2 linked regions of the Homo sapiens genome follow. The protein of the gene in region 1 purifies or fractionates together with the protein of each later gene. This does not show direct contact. Each region holds a gene or a part of one and is shown on either strand. Other genes may lie near its edges.

What was found.
Region 2: the proteins of PLB1 (region 1) and WDR47 purify together in Homo sapiens (affinity purification with mass spectrometry; 2 studies listed by BioGRID and IntAct, with this or other methods). This does not show direct contact.

Annotation. Positions count from the first base shown.
Region 1 is NC_000002.12:28,622,707-28,635,250, forward strand, and holds part of PLB1 (phospholipase B1, membrane-associated isoform 1 precursor), read left to right. Parts: intron 1-2,350; coding exon 2,351-2,402; intron 2,403-3,721; coding exon 3,722-3,802; intron 3,803-5,856; coding exon 5,857-5,922; intron 5,923-6,387; coding exon 6,388-6,479; intron 6,480-7,879; coding exon 7,880-7,958; intron 7,959-9,329; coding exon 9,330-9,434; intron 9,435-10,237; coding exon 10,238-10,333; intron 10,334-12,544. UniProt on the Homo sapiens protein: Calcium-independent membrane-associated phospholipase that catalyzes complete diacylation of phospholipids by hydrolyzing both sn-1 and sn-2 fatty acyl chains attached to the glycerol backbone (phospholipase B activity).
Region 2 is NC_000001.11:108,986,766-108,999,309, forward strand, and holds part of WDR47 (WD repeat-containing protein 47), read right to left. Parts: intron 9,073-12,544; coding exon 8,815-9,072; intron 4,565-8,814; coding exon 4,489-4,564; intron 576-4,488; exon of another isoform or gene 1-575.

The sequences.
Region 1 (12,544 bases):
GTGAAACCCCATCTCTACTAAAATCAAAAATTAGCTGGGTGTGATGGTACACGCCTGTAATCCCAGCTACTCGGGAGGCTGAGGCAGGAGAATCACTTGAACCCAGGAAGTGGAGGCTGCAGTGAGCCAAGATCGTGCCATTGCACTCCAGCCCGGATAACAAGAATGAATCTCCATCTCCAAAAATAATAATAATTAAAAATAAATAAAAGATACAAAGGAATCAAAAGATGAACTCCCTGGCCACGAAGAGCTTGCACTCTAGGTAAGGAGGCTAAACAAATGGGAAATAACTTTCTGAAAAAGACAATGCTGGGTATGGCAACAATGCAGTGCTTCGCATGGAGTACAATTAAGAGAACAGAAGAGCACACAGTATGAACTGCACTGTCTAAAGACAGATGCAGACCCAGAAGGGACCCCTGAAATCATCCAGTCCAACCTCTTCCTTTAAAAGATGGGAAAAGTCAATCCTAGCAAGATTCAGCAACTTGTACAAGCTCAACAGCAAGTTGGTAGCAGAGCTGAAAGTAGAACCACTGGTCCCTGGGGTAAAAAAGGAAATGCAAGATGTGTGGATCAGGGAGCCCAGAGAGGAGGCTCAAGGGAAAGTAGGACTTGGTCTGGGCCTGAAGGATGGGAAGAAGATGGCTAGGAAGAGGGGAAGAAGCGGCATTTGTAACTTCCCCTCCTACCCACGAGGGCTTATTGCCCATGGATTCTCTTAGTCACACCTTGAACCTGTTAAAAGGTTAAAGGCACTTCTGTGGTCACCTTTGACCAGAAAAGTCTTTCTTTATAGCTTTCTGGTATACTCATCAATAGCAATAATGTATGGGATACAATCCTAGATCTGTAAATTCTCCTTAATGAGAAACAAGGGTAGGGATGGTACCATGTGTGTTTGGCCACGTACCTAGCTTACCGTGGCCACCCAAAGATTTTCAGTGGCCAGCTCGCACTGGTTGCTGCTTTTATGGCTTCTTCCATGGACACTTTCATTGGCTATATCCCCTTTGCTGACCTAACTTCTCACAGACATTTCTTTAAACACAGCTTTATTGAGGTATAAATGACATGCAATAAACGTCACATGTTAAAAGGATATAATTTGGCTGGGTGCGGTGGCTCACGCCTCTAATCCCAGCACTTTGGGAGGCCAAGGTAGGCAGATTGCCCAGGAGTTGGAGACCAGTCTGAGCAACTTGGTGAAACCCTGTCTCTACCAAAAATACAAAAAATTAGCCGGGCATGGTGGCATGGACCTGTAGTCCCAGCTACTCGGAAGGCTGAGATGGGAGGATCACTTGAGCTCAGAGGGGTTGAGGCTGCAGTGAGCCGTGATCACACCACTACACTCCAGCCTGGGCAACAGAGCAAGACCCTGTCTCAAAAAGGATACAATTTAACATTGTACCTGTGAAATCATCACCACAATCAAGATGAAAAATGTGTTCATCACCCACAGGAGTTTTCTCAGGCCCCTTGGTAATCTCTCCCTCCTGCTCCTTCCTGTCCCTACCTCACACCCCAGGCAACCACTAACCTTCTTTCCATCACAATAGATTAGTTTGCATTTTTAAAAATTTTATATAAATGGGATCAAAGAGTATATACTTTTTATCTGACTTATTTAGCAAAATGATTTTGCGATGCATCCATGTTATTCGGTATACCAATAGTTCGTCCCTTTTTATGGCTGAGTAGTGTTCCGTTGGCATTCATATCGCTCATCCAGAACACCAAATGGTATTGTTTTATTTATGGCAGACATCAGGGGATGAAGGGAGAACTAATCCTGTCCATCCTGGTTTATTGGAGAGGGAGAAAAAAAAAAGTGAGGAGATGGGGAATGGTGCGGAAATCTAAGTAACCACAGAAAAGAAAAACAAAAGGATTAAAGGAGCAGAGAGCAGGGCTTAGAAGTAAAGGTTAAAGGAGTCATTAAGCCTGGAAAGGAGAAAACTGAGGGATAATTGAGAGCTGTGACTTTTCTCAAATATACAAAAGGTTATTTTTAAAACAGGCAACTGAAGAAGAAATGAACAGGCTTGGCTTACGAAGAAAGAGCTTGAGGAAGTATAAGGGAAAGTCCTGAGGGGAGGCTTGACGGGATCCCAACCCGAGTGGCCGATGAGACTATTGGGTGGCAGGGGCTAGATCAATGTGGCTCCAGGGTCCAGGGCAGCCATGTGATTGTTACTAAGCTGAGATTTCTTGAGAATGGAATGACCTTTGTACTGGTAACATCATTCTTCTTGAAACACCTCTCTTCCTAGGCCAAAATCCCATGTCGTGAGTCCTCGCTCCTGAGCCGGCACTAACGCCCCTCTCTCTACCCCCCACCTAGGGACATGCCAGCCCAGGCCTGGGACCTGGTAGAGCGAATGAAAAACAGCCCCGTGAGTACAGGCCCCCAGGCCACCCCTGAAAGGTGCCCATCTCCTGCTGGCTGGGGAGGGGACAGCCCCATAAGGGTCCCTCTCACCACAGCACTTCCTGCTTTGGGCTAGCCAAAAGATCCTCGGAGAAGCAGTCCTTACCAAGGAGGCGCCTGCCCTGGCCACACTCCTAGACGCAGGCTGTGGCACCCCTCACCCCAGGGCCGGCTGCGGGAGGGCAAGGTGGAACAGGGAGTTGGCTGAGGTGGTGGCCTTGGCCTCTGACAGCTTCCTGCTTTAACCAAGAGGTGGCTTCCCAGAGCCCTATTATGTAAATGCAAGGTTCTAAAAATAGGCTTCTCATTCCAATCCAGTTCTGCCTCCTTCCCCTCACCCTGCCCCTCTGAAACTTCTCACTAGCACTTTTTTTTTTAACCGTTCAGTGTTTATGCCTAGGAATTCAGCTCCCGGTGGGATTCCTATTATGGAGGTGGCCAAGTGGAAAGCCAACTGCTTAGAGGGCCTCCCAGCCCCAACCCCGCTTCTCAGTCCACGCTGGGCTCTTCCTCCAGTCTCCTTCCCCCGACCCTAAGAACTCATCCCAGGGGCAGCTTAGGGCCTTTGCTTCTAGCTGCATCCTTTGCCTACAGCTCCCTGGAAGGCCTTCATTTGGGGGGACGTGGTAATCCCCTCGGCATTTAATGGGCCAAGGATATGTGGGACACATCCACATTCTACTTCTCCAGGGACACAACTTTCTTAAGATTTCAAGGGGAAAATAGCCCTCCCTTGTGTAAGCAGAACCCCGTCCCCCGCCAGCGCCCACCGCCAAAAAAAAAAAACATCCTCTCTGTGGAGCACCTTATCCTAGCACCAATTGAGGGCTGGGAAGCCCCACTTTGTTGCTTTTCTTTTTTTTTTTTTTTTAGACGGAGTCTCGCTCTGTCACCCAGGCTGGAGTGCAGTGGTGCGATCTCAGCTCACTGCAGCATCTGCCTCCTGGGTTCAAGTGATTCTCCTGCCTCAGCCTCCCAAGTAGCTGGGATTACAGGCACCTGCCACCAGGCCAGGCTAATTTTTGTATTTTTAGTGGAGACGGGGTTTCATCATGTTGGCCAGGCTGGTCTCGAACTCCTGACCTCAGGTGATCCACCTGCCTCAGCCTCCCAAAGTGCTGGGATTACAGGTGTGAGCCACCGTGCCTGGCCCAATTTGCTGCTTTTCTCTGTTACAGTATAAATAAGACAAAAGGCACTTGGAGGGCGGGCGGGCTGGCCCAGTAGCAACATTTGTATGTGCCTCCCACCAAGGCCTAAACTCAGGATCTTCTGTCCCCTCAGGACATCAACCTGGAGAAAGACTGGAAGCTGGTCACACTCTTCATTGGGGTCAACGACTTGTGTCATTACTGTGAGAATCCGGTAGGCCCCCGACCAACCCCATGGGGACCTGAGAAGGAAGGTGCTGACCTCTGGCAACATCCTTGCCCATCCATCCCTGGCCCTGCCCCGAGCTCCTTGCTCATGGGAACCACATTTGCCTGCTGCCCCAGGCCCTCCCTGGTTTACACATGCCAGGCAAGGCCCAGCCTTTTCTACTGCCTGAGCGACCCCTGGAAGAGCAGGTGCATTGGTTCCCCAATTCCAGAAGTAAGGCCAAGGTGGACCCACTGTAGGCACTGCTGAGGTGAGGCCTCTCTTATCCACACAAATATGACCTCTGGTACCAGATAGGGGACTAGCCATCCTCACCCCATCCCTGCCCTGTTTCATTTTGAGGAAGGGCAAAACAATGTTCTAAATGGGGTTGGATGGGTCATCACGAGTTAACCAAACCTCAGTGGTGGCCCTGGGAGCCCAAACCTGTTCCTGATGTTTCCATGGGGAAATATGTCCAGACTCACAAACTTCTGGAAGTTGTAACTTCCAAAAGTTTTTATTTTGGAATACATCTTGTTCTAAGTTGGGGACATTCTGTATTTTATTTGGCCGGGAAAAGGCAGCTGCCCAGCCTCAGAGATTGTGGTCGAATGTTTGACAGTCACAGATGGTGGTGTGGGGGAAAAGGCATTTATCACTCCTTGTGGCTCACAGAGGCCAACTACCAGAGGCTTGATGAGAAGTATCCTCCCACACACAGGAGTTGGTTTTCCAAACCTCTTCCCCTCAGTTCTCTCCCTGACCACCCACACTCTAGAGGCAGAAGTGACCCTAACTCATGGGGATTTAAGTATTGCTGTGTTCTGGACTCCGGGGATACCTGGACCCCAGAGCTGCGTGGACACTGTGGACGCTGGCGTAGGGAAATGCCCTCTACTAGTCCCAGGATGTGTGTTCTTCATGGGAACAGTCAGGTTTATACTTCCGAGAGCGTAGTTTAGTTGAAAGGGCTGGGCTGCCCCGACTAGGATTAACTCAGACTGTTTTAAAAAGAAGGAAAGGGGGAAAGGCAGAAACTCTGGGAGACACGAGGTCCCCTCTCCTCTATTTTAACTCTTCGGCATGGATTGTCTATCTTGTTCCTTTCCCCTTCTTCCCAACTCCCAGTACCCCTTCTGGTGGCTGTGGCCAGAAACTCAGCGAACAGCACTGGTCCTATGCCCATCAGTGTGCTGGAATTGAGTGCACGGTATCTCACCTGGCCTCAGCTCTTCGTCTCCAGAAAAAATAATGGGCTGCCTGAGCTCTCCCCTCCTGCCTGAGTGGTGCTGCTTTGTGGGTGCCTCAACTCCCACTTCCTGTGGACATGCTTTCTTCCATGAGTATAAGAGCTTCAGGTTACCACCCGCACCCCCACTGGTATCAGCCTGTGACACCTTCTGGGCCTGTAGCCCAGAGCCACATCTAAAAATAGAGGCCCATCTCCCTCTGCTATAAAGCAAAGCCCTGAGATTCAGCCTGCAAGGACTTACTGAGCACCTACTATGTACCTTGTTTGCATCACCCAGGATGCTGTGGACACACCTCTAAATCAGCCTCCTACTGGGGAGATGGTTCAGAGGAAGAGAACCTTACACTGAGTCACAGGGGATAGAAGTTAGGGGAACACAGGAGAGCAAAACATTTCAGGCAGTGGGACCAGCATGGACCAAAGCCCAAAGGAAAAAGGAAGTGTGGCCACCCAGGGCATGGCAAGGGGCTGGAGAAGGCTGAGGTCAGATGACGGATGGGACTGCCGAGAGCCAAGGCCAAAAAGTGGCAGGACCCAGCACTGGCAGAGTCCACTGTTGGGTCTGAGATTATGTAGAGCAGGGTGGGGGTTGGGATTGTTCATGGTGTCTAGTAGGGGACAAGGGATGATTCCTTACAGAGACTCAGCAGCAACAAGAACTGGGCTTCTCAGTTTGACCAGGACCACCGAAGCCCCTCTGTACCCACTCAGTCATTTAGCCCAGGCCCCAGAGCCCTCCTATGCTCTTGCCATTCTCTCAGAGCGGGCACCAGGGGCTAAAGAGAGTACCCTTTTTTCCTTACAGGAGGCCCACTTGGCCACGGAATATGTTCAGCACATCCAACAGGCCCTGGACATCCTCTCTGAGGAGGTAGGAGAGGGGTTACGTGTTCCTGGGTCCCGCCAGCCACCTCCCTGGGATGCATGTAGGCAGGCTGTGTTCAGTGAGATGCTCACGGAGCAGAGACCCGCCATGAGTGAGCACCTGGATGGCAGGGAGGGAGGTGGCTGTCAAGCTCCTCTGCAGGGAAAATTCTCACTTGGCCAGAGACAGGGTTGTGTGGTAGCAATGAGCTTGCCTCTGAACCAATTGGCCCAGGTTTGCGCCCAGCACTGTGGCTTCGGGCAAGTGACTTCCCTGTGTCTCAGTTTCTCAACCTATAAAGCGGGGCCACTCAAGAAGATTCAGTGAGATACTACAAGTTGCATCCCCTCTCTGGGCCTCAGTTTCTTCATTGGTAAAATTGAGGGGAGTGGGAATTGGATTGTAGATGACCCCCAGGTTCCTCCCAGCAGTAGCCAGTGCCCTAACGAAACCACCCTCCACTCCCTGCAGCTCCCAAGGGCTTTCGTCAACGTGGTGGAGGTCATGGAGCTGGCTAGCCTGTACCAGGGCCAAGGCGGGAAATGTGCCATGCTGGCAGCTCAGTAAGTGGACAGGTCACCGTCCCAAGGCAAGGGCACCTGGGGTGAGGAGGGCTTGCAGGTGCCAAAGGAGGAGACCAGTTGAGGCAGAGCCAGGCAGGCCTGCCAGAGGGTAGACATGGCTCAGGGGCTTGGACAACATCAGGAAGTACCTCTACATTTGCAAATGCCTACTGTATGCAAGGTGCCTCATTTCTCTGGACCCCCTTTTGCTTTTCTGTGAAAGGAGACAGACCAAATGATCCTTAAGGCTCCCTGACATTGTCAGTGATTGCCAAGGCAAACCTTGGCACGCTGCTCCCTGTTGAGAAGCAGCATGGGGCCATGAGCTTTCAAGGCTGCTACATCCAGCCTTGACTGTTCTGCCATTTAGGAGCTATGGGACCTTGAACAAACCACATAACCTCTATGAGCCTCTGTGTTCCTCATCTGTAAAGTGGGGGTGATGACACCTTCCCTGCAAGGTAGATGTGAGGTCAAGAGGAAACAAGGTACCTGGCCTACCAAGACTACCAAGAGCAGGGTCTTAGGAAATAGCTCTTATTCCATCCTTGATGGGGCCTGTCCTTGATAGCTGGGCTTGGAGGCAAGGTGCTAATGGGCAAGACAAGAACTCCTATCGGGGGCTGGAAGTCATTAAAGCTCTTGAACCCTGGTAGGAAGTTGCCATGTTCTGAGGGCAGAGGGCCTCCCACAGTTTGAGTGATTATTGCTATGAGAGAGGAGGTTCTCCAGGGAGCTGAGGAGTCCTACACCTGGGCTCAAATGGATTTGCTGCAAAGGTGACCAGCTGGTTCCCATTTTTGCAGGGAACCCTGCTCTCTCGCAGGGAACGGCTCCTCCAGAGTCTGTCTGTATCGTGTTCCATGTTGTCAGAGTTGCTTCCAGCCGGTTGGCCCTCCCCAGCTTTCCCACAGACTTCCCACACTGGAGCCCTGAGGGAGGGTCCTAAGCAGTTGCAGGAAGAGCTGAGAGGCCCCCGGAACTTGAGGAGCGATTCCAAACCCAGGGACAGAGCCATTGTGGCTGGTTTCCTAAACTCCAGTCTCCTGTCTACCCAGTCCTGCTCTGGAGAAATCCCAGGGACCACAGGCTTGGGAAGGAGGAAGGGGAATAGGCGTTCTGTCCACAGGGAGGTCCAGGCAACAGCTTTCCCTCTTTCTCTATGAACAATCATCCTCTGGACCTCAGGGCTCCTGAGTTAGCATTCTGTAACCTGGGTCCAAGAATCAGCCAAAGGTGTATTGTGGGGATACTTGTGTGTCACCCCCCGCCCTAGGTAAGGCAGCACAGGCTGCAGGCCCCTGGGGTAGTGGCCTGCTCTGTGTGTCAGAGCCAGCCTCCCAGGAGGACAGAGCCACAGTGCCCCAGGCAGCCTCAATACAACACTCCCTGTCTCACAGGAACAACTGCACTTGCCTCAGACACTCGCAAAGCTCCCTGGAGAAGCAAGAACTGAAGAAAGTGAACTGGAACCTCCAGGTAAGCCCTGCAGCCCTTCTCTTACTGACCCAGCTGGGGGGCCCCCTGTACTCCAAGGACTGGGAAATCGAATGCCCAGCAGGATGTGGCCAAGAGCAAGCCACTCCCTAAAAGCAGATTGCAGCCCCTGAAATACTTACCCCTGCAAATTGAACACCAAGGCCAGGGAAGGGAGTGAGAGACCCCAAAGTGGAAGCTGAGAAAATCCCCTTCTCCCAGCGGGTAGGCAGCAAGAGATTCCCAGAGTAGACTCCTTGTGGTAGGGCCCATTCCCCACCCAGAGCCATGTGTAATAATTACTACTCACTTCCTCCCCTCCCTTCATTAAAAACAAAAGGCTTAGGCCCGACACAATGGCTCACGTCTGGTGTCCCAGCTACTCAGGAGGCTGAGATGGGAGGACAGCTTGAGCCCAGGAGTTGGAGGCTGCTGTTAGCTATGATGATGCCATTGTACTCTGCCTAGACAACAGCGTGAGACCCTATCTCAAAAAAAAAAAAAAGAAAAAAAGAAAAAGGCTTAGCCCTGCCCTACTTAACTCTACCTCAAATTCTCCTTGCCCTCTCTCTGCCCCCTTCCATCTCCCCACCTCCACTCCTGCTTATGTCTCTGCCTCTATTGTTCCCTCTCAGGCTCAGGTAGCATTTCCATTCTGCAAACTGACCCTCCTTCATTCACAAGGCAAGTCTGCTTCCCTCCTCTAAGGAGCTTCCCCTGCCTGAACTTCACCCGCGGACATCTCCCCATATCACATTCAGTCTGTACTTGATGGGCCCTAAAAGCCCCAAAGGGTTCTCATGTTTTCACATCTTGGCTCATTTTTCCAGATGGATGATAAACTCCTTGAAGATAAGTACATCTAGTCTGTTCCTTTTACATTCCATGCTTGGGTACTTAAATCCAGCCACCGTGGACTCTCCTCCCGCAAAGTTCATGGGCATTTTGGGAGCTGGTGTTGAGATGCTCCCCATCTGACCTGCAGCCCCATGTTCTAATTGACCTCTTCGTGCAGTGAGAGGAGGGGAGGACTTTGGCCTATGCAATCTGGTCAGTGGCTCAGACCCAGCCTTTCAGGCAGAGGCTTTGGAATGGGACTGGGTGGAGCTGTGTAGCTAGGGAGCTTCTCCCACCAGGAGCCGCTGGGTTCAACTCATCTCTGATCCTGAGAACCAGCATAGGGCTTTGAAATGTCCGTGCCCATGAATGGGTGGAGAATAAAAGTATGTTTGCATCCCACTAGAGTAGCCCCTTAAAGTCACTGTCCTTTAGGGTGAGTTGACTCCCGTCAACAACCAATCCAAGGCAGCAGGACTGGACCCTGTCTGTGCAGCCTTGCCAGGAGGGTTGAGCAGCTTCTCTCTCTGTCCCCAGCATGGCATCTCCAGTTTCTCCTACTGGCACCAATACACACAGCGTGAGGACTTTGCGGTTGTGGTGCAGCCTTTCTTCCAAAACACACTCACCCCACTGAACGAGGTGAGCTGCAGGTATTTTAGGGAGGCTCACGTATGGGGGCCTTATCACAGACGATGGATGTATTTCCTTCTCTAAGTGGGCTTTTTTTTTTTTTAACCATCTCTCTCCAAGAGGATTCCTGAGGGTGGCTTTTTCCACATTACCTCCTTTTTGTGGGGGCTGGGCTGTGATTGGAACTCAGATGTACTTTGAAAGGAAATCAATAGTGACTAAGCTCCCAGGCCTGGCCCTGATGTTTTCTGGATTGGGATAGAATGGAAAGCTTCCTAAAAATGTTACTCTTTTCAACTCTTAGGATAGGGGTGCTGAAAGAAAAGGGAGAGACTATGGGTGGGTCCAATTCTTGTCTGTTTAAAAAGAAAATTCCGGCCGGGTGCAGTGGCTCATGCCTGTAATCTCAGCCTTTGGGAAGCCAAGGCGGTTGAATCACGAGGTTAGGAGTTTGAGACCAGCCTGGCCAACATGGTGAAACCCCGTTTCTACTAAAAATACAAAAAGTTAGCTGGGCGTGATGGCAGGCACCTGTAATCCCAGGTACTCGGGAGGCAGAAGTTGCAGTGAGCTGAGATTATGCCACTGCACTCCAGCCTGGCTGACAGTGCGAAACTCCGTCTCAAAAAAAAAGAAAAAAGAAAAAAAGAAATTCTAAATTCTGGGAGTTTTTCCATCAGTATCTGAGCAAGTTGGCAGGAAAGTTGAAAGAATGAAAGGAGACATGCCCAGGGCACCTGCTGGGAGAGTGAGTGGGGCTCAGGTAGCAGAGCCCTTTCCCAGGATGATAACCTCCTTGCCGTTGGTTGCAGAGAGGGGACACTGACCTCACCTTCTTCTCCGAGGACTGTTTTCACTTCTCAGACCGCGGGCATGCCGAGATGGCCATCGCACTCTGGAACAACATGGTGAGCAGCCAAGGGCCTGGTGGGCCTTGTCAAGGGGGGATCTAAGGATATTGACACTCTGTCTCACAATGGCAAAACTACTGGAGACATGGCTCCTTTCTCCCCAAAGCCCAAAGTGGCAGCACACCTTATTGGTCCTGATAGATTAATTCCAAAGGGAAAATACCCTATATTTATCCAACACCCTTTGAAAGTTATACAAACACACACTCACACAACTTTATTCTTTGTTCCTTCAGCAATGCCCAGGTACTGCGAGGGGATCCCTTTGTAATCAGATAGGTTGGCTAGATGAAAATACCAACTTCTACCTCGTACTGTGTGACCTTGGGCAAACGATCTCTCTGGCCACCTGTATCAACATCTATAAAACAGTGAAAACAAGACAGGTCTCAGACAACGCATTGAGATCATGTGTACATGGCACCTAGCACAATAGTTAGCACTCAGCAAATGTCACCACCATCAGCCTTCCAAGCACTCCGGGCTCAACTCATACCCAACTCATTTCTCTAAACATCGAAAAGTGGAGATCCACACAGCCTGTTTTCCGAGGCTGATACCTATTCCAGTCCTTTCTGATGGGAAGAAGGGACCTTATGAAATGAACATACAGTCTGGGGGTCTTTCAGGGACACCTGCCTGGTGCTTCCACTCTGCCTTCTGTGGCTGGCCACCAGCAACTGAATGGTTTCCGCACAGCACTTGACCTGTCACCCCCAACAACTGGATCCTCTTGCACGGAGCAAATGAAATGCCTTCCCAACCCAATGGTTTCTTTTAATCCAGGCTCAGTGGGTAACACAATCCCCACCCCAACCTGTATGTTCCCTCCTTTGTCCTATGACAACTAAACAAGCTACATTCCAGCTCCTTTTATCACAGTTTCAGGCCCATAGTGTCTCTGCCAACCACCGCTGTGCAAACGTTCCCACCCCTGTCAGCTCATCCAGTATGTCCAGCATCCCACTCGGCTGACTCACAATATTGACTTTCTCCTTAGCTATACCATCTCCTCCTCTCTAGCAACCTCTTCTTTTAAGAACAGCATGTAAACTGGCTTTATCCTTGGCCTAGTTAATGGCAGACTCAGCTTATGTCGACTTCCATTGTCAGGGGGTTTTCCTCCTGTGGACATCACGTACCTGCCCACTCCAAGAACTTCTATTGTACTCTTTCAGCCCAAGACTCCGGATTGTAACCAAAATGTCTTTGAGTTTGCCCCACGATTTTTAAATCAGTTTATATGGTATAATTCCTGTTTCTTTTGTGGATTTTGTTTTGAAGGCGGTTGTCCTTCACTGGCTGAATCATGTGACTTTATTCCTTTGTAAAAATCTTCCCAAAGAAAGGGTACCTATTCCCTGTTCCTTTTCCCCTGAGACCTCAGGGGATTCCACAGATGCCCTTGGCCCTTCCTTCCCAGTTTTTTCATCAAGGTATGGCCTTCCTACCAGGTGGCACTCCAAGTCTGCTTAAATCTGGGACCCTCCAGGAATCTCCTGGGGCTGGATAGCCATAGTGACGGCTGGAACATGAAAAAGAGTCCATTGGTTTCTTTTCTTGTGAATTAACAATGTAGCTCTGGCCAGGCACGGTGGCTCATGCCTGTAATCCCAGCACTTTGGGAGGCCGAGGCAGGTGGATCGCTTGAGCCCAGGAATTAGACACCAACCTGGGCAACACAGGGGAGATTCTGTCTCTACAAAAATAATCAAAATATTAGCCAGGTGTGGTGGTGCATGCCTGTAGTCCCAGCTGCTCAGAAGGCTGACGTGAGAAGATCACTTGAGCATGGGAGGTCAAGGCTGCAATGAGCCGAGATGGCACCACCGCACTCCAGCCTGGGCAATAGAGTGAGACCCTATCTCAAAAAACAAATAGAAAAAAAAAATATATGTAGCTCTGGCCTTCTCTTCTAAAGCAGTTCAGTAGCTCTTCCCATTCACCCAGGTAAGAGGCCTTTATTTCATAAAGATAAGTGGGAGGAGTTTAGATATGAAAACAAAACGTAAACACCGCACTGGAGCTATTGTGGAAACAAAACAAGACTGTCCATGGTTCCCCAGCCATTATTATCTCAGCCATACCCCGAATTTCAAAATAACAAAAACAAAACTAAAGCCATCCAGGGGTTTCTTATCCTAGGCTCTATAATTTGGGGAAATAATTATACAGTCTAATGTTTTCATCCAAAGCCAATCTTAGACA
Region 2 (12,544 bases), on another chromosome or scaffold:
CTTTATTATTCTTGTTGGATCATGTTAGGTTTACTGCCAATAACCATATATTCTTTTCTCTATGTTTTTCTTACTTTATTAAATCTTACTAATATCCTTTAAGAGGCAAACACACAGACAAGTAGGCTACAGTGAAGAAATCTTATTTTGGAGAGTTAAGAAACCACTAAGATACTTCCAGGTATTATCATCAGTGATGCTTCTTATCTTTACTCTGGGACACCAGGTAATATTAAACCCCTACAGCTACCACAAATGCAGCAAATCTTTGAATCCTTTTAATAATGCACCATCAGAGGAAACATTGTTTGCAAAGTCACCCATGTTTCTCTAAGCTTCATTACAGCCCCATAGATCCCTTAGCCCTCCTGCAGCCAGCTTCTCCTGGATAGTTTCTAATGGTGTTTCTTCTATCTTCCATTGTTTATAATCTGGAAATTCCATTTTACTATGTTCATGTTAACGTCCATGTCCATGGGCCATTTCTGTATTCTTTAGATGATTCTTTTAAAGTGCAGCATTATTGCTTTCCTTTTTTAAAAAGTTTTAATTTTTTTAATTAAAAAAAAATAGAGATGGAGTTTCGCCATGTTGCCCAGGCTGGTCTTGAACTTCTGGGCTCAAGCAATCTGCCCACCACGGCCTCTCAAAGTGCTGGGATTACAGGTGTGAGCCACCGCACCAGCCAATTGTTTGTTTTGTTTTGTTTTGTTTGTTTTTGAGATGGAGTCTTGCTCTGTTGCCCAGGCTGGAGTGCAGTGGCGTGATCTTGGCTCACTGCAACCTCTGCCTCCCAGGTTCAAGTGATTCTCCTGCCTCAGCCTCCTGAGCAACTGTGATTACAGGTACCCACCACCATGCTTGACTAATTTTTGAATTTTTAGTAGAGACAGGGTTTCACTGTGTTGGCCAGGCTGGTCTCAAACTCCTGACCTGAAGTGATCTGCTTGCCTCAGTCTCCCAAAGTGCTGGGATTACAGGCATGAGCCACCGCACCTGGTTCCAGCCAATTGTTTTTAAATACATATGATTACATGAAGTTTTTCTGACAGCAGTCTCCATATATTAAGTAGCATATTCAAATTCCCTAATTTTTCTATTTTTCATTACTCATTGCTAAACTAAGCTCAGTTCATAAACACTCAAGTTTTTCTTCAATTATTAAGACAAAATGTAAGAATAAATACGGGCCAGGCACGGTGGCTCATGCCTATAATCCCAGCACTTTGTGAGTCCGAGTTGGGCATATTGCTTGAGCCCAGGAGTTTGAAACCAGGCTGTGCAACATGGCTAAACCCCATCTCTATAAAAATGAAAAAAAAAAAAAATTTTAGACGGCTGTGGTGGTATGCACCTGTAGTCTCAGCTACTTGGGAGGCTGAGGTGGGAGGATCGATTGAGTCTGGGAGGTTGAGGCTATAGTGAGCCTGGGCAACACCTGTCAGGGAGGGGGAGATAGGAAGGGGGGAGGGGCGGGGCACCAAGAAGGAAGGAAAGAATAAGTATGCATTCCTATATTAAGTTCTCTTTAACTATTAAGAAAAAAAAAAAAGCCCACTAGAAGTTCTAACAAATAGAGTTTCATTTGTGTTTCTAAATGAAGGAAGTATAAAGGATTATTAATCTGCTTAAGAAAAAATGTTTACCATTATCTCTATCAATGAATATTTCAGTATTTCAAGCTGAAGTTATAAAATATCCCTTTAACAGCCTGGGCAACATGATGAAAACCCATCTCTACCAAAAAAAAGAAAAATAATACAAAAATTAGCCGGGTGTGGTGGCGCATGCCCGTAGTCACAGCTACTCAGGGCGCTGGGGTGGGGGGATCACTTGAGCCTGGGAGGTCAAAGCTGCAGTGAGCTGAGATCGCACCACTGCACTCCAGCCTGGGCAACAGAGCAAGATTCTGTCTCAAATTAAATAAATAAATAAACAAACATCCCTTTAAAACTGTAAAAATAATTTTAATGGAAACATTTGAATGTTTCATTTCTACTTTTTTTTTTTGAGATGGAGTATCGCTCTACTGCTCAGGCTGGAGTGCGGTGGCGCAATCTTGATTCACCGCAACCTCTGCCTCCCAAGTTCAAGCGATTCTCCTGCCTCAGCCTCCCAAGTAGCTGGGATTATAGGCATGCACCACCACACCCGGCTAATTTTTGTATTTTTAGTAGAGATGGGGTTTCACCATGTTGGCCAGACTGGTCTCGAACCCCTGAGCTCAAGTGATCTGCCACCTCAGCCACCCAAAGTGCTGGGATTACAGGTGTGAGCCACCACGCCTAGCCTCATTTTTACTTTAAACTGTCAACCTGTCCATCCAGATCTCTCTTCTGAAGAGAGATGCTGAAGCAGTTCTGTATAAAAGCTTTGGTGAACCTACTACTGATGTCATTTGAAACCACCGTGTTACCCTGACCAGGACTGACTGGACATGGTGCAGGAACCTCTACACTAGGTATGGTCAGACTCAACCAAACCCCGGCTTTGAGAAGTATGAATGTCAAGTACACACACAAAGGAAAATCACTTCAGCTCTGGATGTATTCTGAGAGGTCTAGGACCCATAATGACTACAGCAATGAAAAGACTATGCCTCTCTCTACCTAAGCCTTTATTCATGCAATACATCCTCCTTGCAGGAGTAGGGGGGCAAACCTGATGTGTTACGCTATGTATGTCCTATGTAAGTGAATTGAATTCTGATATTATTTGTATGAATTTGACTAGAAATGTTGCATTTTCCAATAATCCATACACAGGGAATGTGACTGTTTGCAAAATTATATAATAGCATGGGGTAGATAAGAGAAAAAGGGAGGAAAAACGACTAATTAACTAAATGGCCTATAGCACATCAAAAATTACTAAAGATTGCTTTATAGCAGAAGCCACACAAACTGATTTTATTTGCTGTCCTCCAGAGTGTTTTAAATTTTTTTTGAGACAGAGTTTTGCTCTTGTTGCCTAGGCTGGAGTGAAATGGCATAATCTTGGCTCATTGCAACCTCTGCCTCCCAGGTTCAAGCGATTCTCCTGCCTCAGCCTCCCAAGTAGCTGGGATTACAGGCACCCGCCATCACACTCAGCTAATTTTTTGTATTTTTAGAAGAGATTGGGTTTCGCCATGTTGGCCAGGCTGGTCTCAAACTCCTGACCTCAGGTGATCCACCTGCCTTGACCTCCCAAGTGTTGGGATTACAGGAGTGAGCCACTGCATCCAGCCTTAAAATTTTTTTAAATTTGTTGTCATTTAAAAAACTAGGTGATTTCACATAAAAATCTAGATTTCTAGCTTTTCTTGAAAATCAGGTCAGGTGCAGTGCCTCCCACCTGTAATCCTGGCATTTTGGGAGGTCGAGGTGGGAGGATTGCTTGAGCCCAGGAATTTGAGACCAGCCTGGGTGACGTAGTCACACCATGTCTCTATTAATATATATACATACATATATTTTTTGGAGACAGAGTCTTGCTCTGTCCCCCAGGCTGGAGTACAATGGCGCGATCTTGGCTCACTGCAACCTCTGCCTCCTGGGTTAAAGCAATTCTCGTGCCTCAGCCTCCCAAGTGGCTAGCATTACAGGCGTGAACCACTATGCCTGGCTAATTTTTGTATTTTTAGTAGAGACGGGGTTTTGCCATGTTGGCCAGGTTGGTCTTGAGCTCCCGACCTCAGATGATCCAACTGCCTCAGCCTCCCAAAGTGCTGGGATTACAGGTGTGAGCCACCATGCCTGGCCTAATATTTTTTTTTAAATCAAAGGAATTGGAAACACTGGACTTGCATATTTCTTTTGCAAGGGACAAATATTCCTTTGTGCTTATCATAAAAATGGTCAATTTTATTAATTTATGTTATCTATTTCATCCCTAAAAGCATCTCAAATTAACACCTTTGTTTATGGGGTTAAAATCTGAACTAGGAAAAGTAAGATAGAGTGAAGCTGTATACTAGCTAGGAAAGGATGTTTGCTTCCAAAGCAAAAAAAAAGGTGTACCGATGAGAAGCCCAAAGAGATACCAATAATGAAATTAACCATAGGGTTCAGAGAATAACACAGAGCCTCAATTCATGTCCCAAGGCCACTACTAGGCCATTAATATGAACACTCCCACGTGTCCAACTGTGCTTTCTAAGGCTCCCTCTTCAGTTACACCACTGAGAGCTCAACTGCCTTGAGCCTCGAGATAAATACCAACATTAGCAGTAAAAGTTTGTGGGGTTTTTTTTTGTTTTTTTTTTTTTAAGACACGAGGTCTCACTCTGTTGCCCAGGTTGGAGTGGTGCAACGGCTATCCACAGGTGCGATTCTAGTACTCTACAATCTCAAACTTCTGGGCTCAAGACATTCTTCTGCCTCGGCCTCCTGGGTACTGTACACCACCACGTCTGACTAAAATGGTTCTTTCTTTGAATTGAAAATTTCTTAGCAAAATTTACAGGTGCATATGAAAACAATAAAACTTCCTTCCCCAAAGTATTACCTCTTCCCCTTTCGACCTTGAAAGACTCCCTGGAGAATCTCCAAGAGGTGGCTTAATGACCGAATGTTCTGAAGAGCTGTGGGAGTAGAAATTCAAGTAAAGTTTACTCCATGTATCAAAATAGAAACTAAATTAATTTACCCTTTCAAACACTAATTTTTCTTTTTAGCAAACAATCCTAGCTGACTCCAAAGTTACTCTCTGGAGACATTTATTAAAATAAGCTCTGGATTCAGTGGCACCAATGACAGTTGTAAGGAGGAGATGAAAAGCCATTCTGGAAAGAAAATTAAGTCAAAGTCCACATATTTTATAGTGAGATGTCAAGTACCCTTCCCTTGCTTAGTTCCAGAATCCTGTTTGCTATGCTTAAATCCAACCCCAGACAGGACACTGGAGAATGCTCTTCAGGAAAATTATCTGGCCCAAGAGAAAAAAATATCAGAAACTTACAGTTTAGGGTACCTTAGTAAAACTATGTTTCCTCTTAATCAATTTTTGTGAGGCCAACAAGCAGACAGATCCACCCACATATGTAGCCCTTCCTTCCAATCAGCTTTTAAAATTTTTATTTAATATTATAAAATATAATAGAGACGGGGTCTCCCTATGTTGCCCAGGCTGCTCTCGAACTCCTGGGCTCAAGCAATCCTCCCACCTCAACCTCCCAGATTGCTGGGATTACAGGTGTGAGTCACCACACCCAGCCAGCTTTTGTTTTAATGTCTCACTGTTTACGGCCAGCCAAAGCTTTCTAGATACCTGAAAAAAGCCGAGATAAAAGGTAGAGACTAAAATCAACAGAAAAATGAACTTGGGAGAAGAGAGGCAATTTAGGGAACAAAAGCTACAAAAATGTAATTTAAATCCTTAGATATAAGAGGAAATAACAGATTAATAAGGAAACAAGAGCAAGATCTATTTTTTAAAAAGGAAAAGAAATTAGATAATAAGAAAGACCTCTTAGAAAATTAAAATATGATGGTAGAAAAAAGTAAATCCGAAGCAGCCTGAGGTAATCTGTGAAAATGGTTCGCTATTCACTTGACCCGGAGAACCCCACGGAATCATGCAAATCAAGAGGTTCCAATCTTCGTGTTCACTTTAAGAACACTCGTGAAACTGCTCAGGCCATCAAGGGTATGCATATACGAAAAGCCACGAAGTATCTGAAAGATGTCACTTTACAGAAACAGTGTGTACCATTCCGACGTTACAATGGTGGAGTTGGCAGGTGTGCGCAGGCCAAGCAGTGGGGCTGGACACAAGGTCGGTGGCCCAAAAAGAGTGCTGAATTTTTGCTGCACATGCTTAAAAACACAGAGAGTAATGCTGAACTTAAGGGTTTAGATGTAGATTCTCTGGTCATTGAGCATATCCAAGTGAACAAAGCACCTAAGATGCGCCGCCGGACCTACAGAGCTCATGGTCGGATTAACCCATACATGAGCTCTCCCTGCCACATTGAGATGATCCTTACGGAAAAGGAACAGATTGTTCCTAAACCAGAAGAGGAGGTTGCCCAGAAGAAAAGGATATCCCAGAAGAAACTGAAGAAACAAAAACTTATGGCACGGGAGTAAATTCAGCATTAAAATAAATGTAATTAAAAGGAAAAAAAAAAGTAAATCCATAGAAAATAGAGGTGAGGAAATTGCTAAATAATATTTTTTTAATTTCCTAGAACTTAAGTTTCCAACTTAAAAGGGCCCATGAAATACCCAGAAGAATAAGGAAAAATAGAATCACTCTAAGGTCTATCTTCTATATCATCATGAAGTTTCAGACTATCAGGGAAGAGAAGAACCTGAAAAATTCCAGAGTAGAAGGAGCAATAGGCCTCACCCAAAGAATGAGGAATCAACCAGCCTCGCCAACATGGTAAACATGGTGAAACTCCATCTCTACTAAAAATACAAAAATTAGTTGGGTGTGGTGGTATGTACCTGTAGTCCCAGCTAGTAGGGTAGCTTAGGCACAAGAATCACTTGAACCCAGGAGGCCGGGGGTTGCAGTGAGCCAAGATTGCGCCACTGCACTCCAGCCTGGGAGCCAAAGTGAGACACTGTCTCAAAAAAAAAAAAAGACAATGAGGAATCAAGATGGCATCAGACTTTTTAATCAGAACACTAAAACTGGAAGATCATGTAGCAATGCTTTTGAAATACTGAGGAATGATTTTCATCCTAGAATTCTATACCCAGCTATACTAACAAAAAAGGTGAAAAATAAAGCAAACACATTTTTAGACATGCAAGGTCTCAGAAACTTCACCTCTAAGGCACCCCTTTTCAGGAAACTGTGAGATGCTAAAAACAGGGAATCTAATAAAGAGATGAGGCAAAGGAAATCCCAGCAGAACAGTGAGGAAAGTCCCAGGATTCTATCTAGACCTACATAAAGTGATCAAAAAGCAGTAAATATAAAGTGAAGCAGGAGTGATCCTGGAGGGACATCTCCCAAGGGGAAAAAATGGAATAGAGAAATTTCTGACACTTTTTACAATAATGAGAGAAGTTTTATGATTTTATAATTCTGTCAAAGCACTTACAGATAGTTTAGTGATAAATATTAAGAAAACTCATCATGTACAGACACATGAACACCAACTTGAGGCAATTACTGTCTCCAGGAAAAACAAGAAGCTATATGAAAAAGAAATATAATCATATGGCACTACATGACCCAGTTGTAAATAACATTTACAAGGTCATAGTAATGTGATACTGATTTAAACAAAATCACACTGATACTGATTTAAACAAAAATTGATATATACTGAAAATAAGGGATAGACAAAGTGAGGGTGCTATGTATGAGGAGTATGGTAGAGAATCAACAGATAGCAAAAACAGTAATAGAGGCCGGGTGCGGTGGCTCATGCCTGTAACTCCAGCACTTTGGGAGGCCGAGGTGAGCGAATCATGAGGTCAGGAGTTCGAGACCAGCCTGGCCAACATGGTGAAACCCTGTCTCTACCAAAAATACAAAACATTAGCTGGACATGGTGGCACATGCCAGTAATCCCAGCTACTCAGGAGGCTGAGGCAGGAGAATTGTTTGAACCTGGGAGGCAGAGGTTGCAGTGAGCTGAGATTACACCACTGCATTCCAGCCCGGGCAACAAGAGCAAAACTCCATCTCAAAAAAACAAAACAAAACAGTAATAGAAGTATGTTTTTCAGAAATGTGGAAATATATAGCAAAAGGCTGGGTGTGGTGGTTCACTCCTGTAATCCCAGGACTTTGGGAGGCTGAGGTAGGAGGATCACTTAAGCCCAGGAATTTGAGACCAGCCTAGGCAACATAGTGAGATCCCATCTTAAAAAAAAATTGTATGTATATATATCAAGAGAAACAGCCAAATGGGTTGAAAATGGCAGCCAATAAGAAATAAAACCATGGACAAAGATGGGTTTTATTTTAAGCCTTGAAGTACTATTTGTCTTTTGAAACCATGTATGTATATTACATGGACAAAAACAAAAATTAAATTTTAAAATCTGAATTCTTGTTTTGAAAGTACTCAAAACAACTATTATGAAAGCTGTAATAAAAAAGCAAATAGTAAAAAAATAAAAATTCAGAAAAGAATCAAAAATTGAATTTATGCTCTGAAATAAAACTAGGTTTTTGACACTAATTATTTATAAAGTGAATTCCTATAAGCATCCAAGTGCCAAAAGCAAGTTATACATTTTTGTACTTAATCTCAGCCAAAAAGCTGGGAATCTCATCTTATACATTTTTTAATGAACCACCCTGAAAAGTGTTTTATGCTAAGAATATAGAAAATGCTCCTTAACTATTCCCATTGCATAAATTAACACTTGTATACTAATGATAGCAAGATAAAAATTTTCCCTGAATAGTGAAAATGTAAATATGCAGTCTTCCACTGCTGTAATTGCCAAAGCAGCCAACACTGCAGCTGTAATCATTCCACCAGATTGTAAAACATCTTTCTATGCCCTGAAAGTCTGAATTTTAAGATTATTTGTTCAAAGATGCCAACTGAAGAAAAAAGAAAATCAAGATTTAGAGATCCTAAAACTGTAGGTTCTTTGAGTAGGATGGCTTATAAAAAATATAATTGCCTTGGTGGTAGTCAGGAAGCAAAAAGAAAAATAGAAGGAAAATGGAAACTATAAAGAGACTTAGAAGTTGGTAGAAGAGAATATAGACAAATGAAGGCAGATTAGGAAAAAAAATTGGTAGGCAGTAAGCTCTAAAAACTTTTATTTATAAGGCTCCAAAGACAAGTTCAACCTTCTAACCATTAGTAGTAAGTTAATATTTCCAAGTTTTACAAAGTCAAGCACTTACATTTGGCTTCCACAAGGTGATTCCTCCAGAAAAGGTATGTGATTTGTTGATCCAGGATTACGAGGAGTGCTTGTATGAATATTTGAAGCATCATGTGTTAATCTCTGACTAGAGTCTTGGGGTGGTGTAGTAAAACTAGTCACAGAAGAACCATTAGATCCATTGCCTTTGCTCCCATTACATTGCTGGTTGAGTGCTGATACCTCATTACCAAGGCCATCCATTCCAATATTTAATTCACCAAGCTTTTGAATGGACCTATAAAATTAAACAATGTAATCATTTTAAAATAAAAACTTAATTGCATTCCTAATATATACAAGGTTAAAAGTGTGAAAAGGTAAAAATATGCACATATAATATATAATCTATGGCAAATTTAGTGTTAAAAATTACCACCATCAACTTAAGACATAACCAAGATACTGAAAGAAGATCCACATTTTCCCATAGTATAACACTACAGAAGATAGGCATAATGGGCATTATAGACTTTTCTTTTTTTGAGTCAGGGTCTCGCTCTGTTGCCCAGGCTGAAGTGCAGTGGCATGATCGTGGCTCACTGCAGCCCTGGGCTCAAGCAATCCTTCCACCTCCCACACATACCTGGGACAACAGGTGCATACCATCATGACCAGCTAACTTTTTAAATTTTTTGTAGAGACAGAGTCTCCCTATATGGCCTAGATTGGTCCTTAACTCCTGGGTTCAAGCTATCCTCCTGCCTTCCGCCCAAAGTGCTGGGATTATAGGCATGAACCACTGTGCCCAGCCAGTATCACAGACTTTTTAAAAGCAGCTTTTACAATAAAAACAGAAAAAAAATTCTTTTTCTTCCCCAATATAACTTTGGTTTAATTTTCCATTTAAAACTTAACTTTCAGAAAGAGTCAATAACAATATCACCACTACCAAAATTGCTCATCAACAAAACAAGCCATTTTCATTCCATCTGTCTTGAGTAGTATCAAGTAGGAAATGGATGACTTGAGCAAGCCATGATGAGTAAAAAGTCAAATGGCATCCCTAATACTCCACATGTACTTATTCACTCATTAATTCATTCTACAAATACTATTGGCCAGTCTCTGATCTAGACAATAGGGAGATAAAACAGGGAGCAAAACAAGTTAGCCTCAGGGCCTTGCCCTCAACAAATAGTCTCTCCATTGCTGTAGCCTGACTCCATATTGAGATCAGGGCTACAAAGGGCACAAACAGGAAGCTACATTGCTCTTTTAAGATTTAGACTCATGGGCCAGGTGCGGTGACTCATACCTGTAATCCCAGCACTTTGGGAGGCTGAGGTGGGCGGATCACTTGAGGTCAGGTTCGAGACCAGCCTGGCCAACATGGTGAAACCCCATCTCTACTAAAAATACAAGAATTAGCCAAGCATGGTGGCAGATGCCTGTAATCCCAGCTACTTGGGAGGCTGAAGCAGGAGAATCACTTGAACCTGGGAAGCGGAGGCTGCAGTGAGCCAAGATCACACCACTGCACTCCAGCCTGGGCGACAGAGCAAGTCTCCATCTCCAAAAAAAAAAAAAGAAGTTAGACCCATGGCCAGGAGCGATGGCTCACGCCTATAATCCCAGAACTTTGGGAGGCCAAGGCAGAAGGATTGCTTGAGCTCGGGAGTTTGAGACTAGCCTGGGCAACAGAGGGAGCCCGTCTCTCCCAAAAAAAAAAAAAAGAAAAGAAAAAGAAAAACTTAGCCAGACATGGTGGTGCAGGCCTATGGTCCTAGCTACTTGGAAGGCTGAGGTGGAAGGATTGCCTGGGCCCAGGAGGTCAAGGCTGCAATGGGCCGTGATCCTGCCTGGGCAACAAAGTGAGATCCCATCTCAGAAAAAAAAAAAAAGAAAAAGAAAAAAAAGGAAAGAAAGAAGGAGGGCTGGGCGCGGTGGCTCATGCCTGTAATCCCAGCACTTTGGGAGACCGAGGCGGGCGGATCACGAGGTCAGGAGATCGAGACCATCCTGGCTAACACGGTGAAACCCCGTCTCTACTAAAAATACAAAAAAAAAATTAGCCAGGCGTGGTGGTGGGCGCCTGTAGTCCCAGCTTCTCGGGAGGCTGAGGCAGGAGAATGGCGTGAACCTGGGAGGCGGAGCTTGCAGTGAGCCGAGATAGTGCCACTGCACTCCAGCCTGGGCAACAGAGCAAGACTCCATCTCAAAAAAAAAAAAAAAAAGAAAGAAGGAAGGAAAGGAAAGGGGAAAGGGGAGGAAGGGAGGGAGGAAAGAAGATTTAGACCCAAAACTAACCCAGCATCAGTTTCTCCAGCTGAGATTCAATATAAGAAAGGACTAACACAGGGAGTACAATTATTGAGAGGTGTTGTGGCTTATGGTATTTTTTAATTTTCCTACATTAAACATTGTTTATTTATATTTTTAGGGTTTAAAAATACTTCCAAAAAAGCAGCTCAATATTATTAGAGGAACTGTTAGCCTTATACTAAATATTTATCAGTTAAAAATTATAATTAAGTAGCATTTCTCAAATTGTGTTCTGTGAAACATATTTCTTGTGAAATGTACATATATCTTTTTTATACTCCCCATAAAAAGGGATGTGAGGTCAAATAAATTTGGGAAAAATGCAAAGTATAAAAAGCATTTAAAATGCTAATACAGGCCAGGCACAGTGGCTCATGTCCGTAATCCTAGCACTTTGGGAGGCCAAGGCGGGCAGATCACCTGAGGTAGGGAGTTTGAGACCAGCCTGGCCAGCATGGTGAAACCTCGTCTTTACTAAAAATACAAAAATTAGCCAGGCATGGTGGTGGACACTTGTGGTCCCCGCTACCTGGGAGGCCGAGATGGTGAATCGCTTGAACCTGGGAGGAAGACGTTGCAGTGAGCCAAGGTCATGCCACTGCACTCCAGCCTAGGCAACAGAGCAAGACTCCGCCTCAAAAAACAAAAAAAAAATGCTAATATAGCATTTTAACTCTCTTAAAATGGGCTGGGATGGGGAAGAGGCTGAATACGCCTATTAATTGTCAAATCAATGGTGCCAATTATTAGTATTAATAAAAACAAAAGATCAAGAGGTATAAAGTAATGATACAGTACTATTAATAAAATTCCTATCATGCTATAATTTTTTTCAATAAGATCTAATTGTGTAACACACCTTACTTCTCTTCTGTCTATGCCCCTCAGAAGGAAGAAGTAAAATTTAAATCTAGAAATAATGACCTGCAAGAGTGATTTGGAAGAATAAAACATTGAGAGGAAAAAGCACATTTTATAGATTCTATCTCCATTCAATTTGTCCTTGATTTTACATATCTTAAAGCCCTAGTACAGGCTCAGATATACAAAACTAGAGTCTAGAAAAAATAATTAAACAAAAATATTGGGCCAGGCATGAGCCTGTAATCCCAGCACTTTGGGAGGCCAAGGCAGGTGGATCACCTGAGGTCAGGAGTTCGAGACCAGCCTGACCAACATGGTGAAAGCCTGTCTCTACTAAAAATACAAAAAATTAGCTGGGCATAAGTGGCAGTGCCTGTAATTCCAGCTACTTGGGAGGCTGAGGCAGGAGAATCACTTAAACCTGGGAGGCAGAGGTTTCAGTGAGCTGAGATCGCGCCACTGCACTCCAGCCTGGGCAACAAGAGCAAGACTCTGTCCCCAAAAAAAAAAAAAATTATATTAAAGGGTTAGAACAGAATAGATAAGATTAAGAGAATGACAGAAAATTTATGGGAAACTAA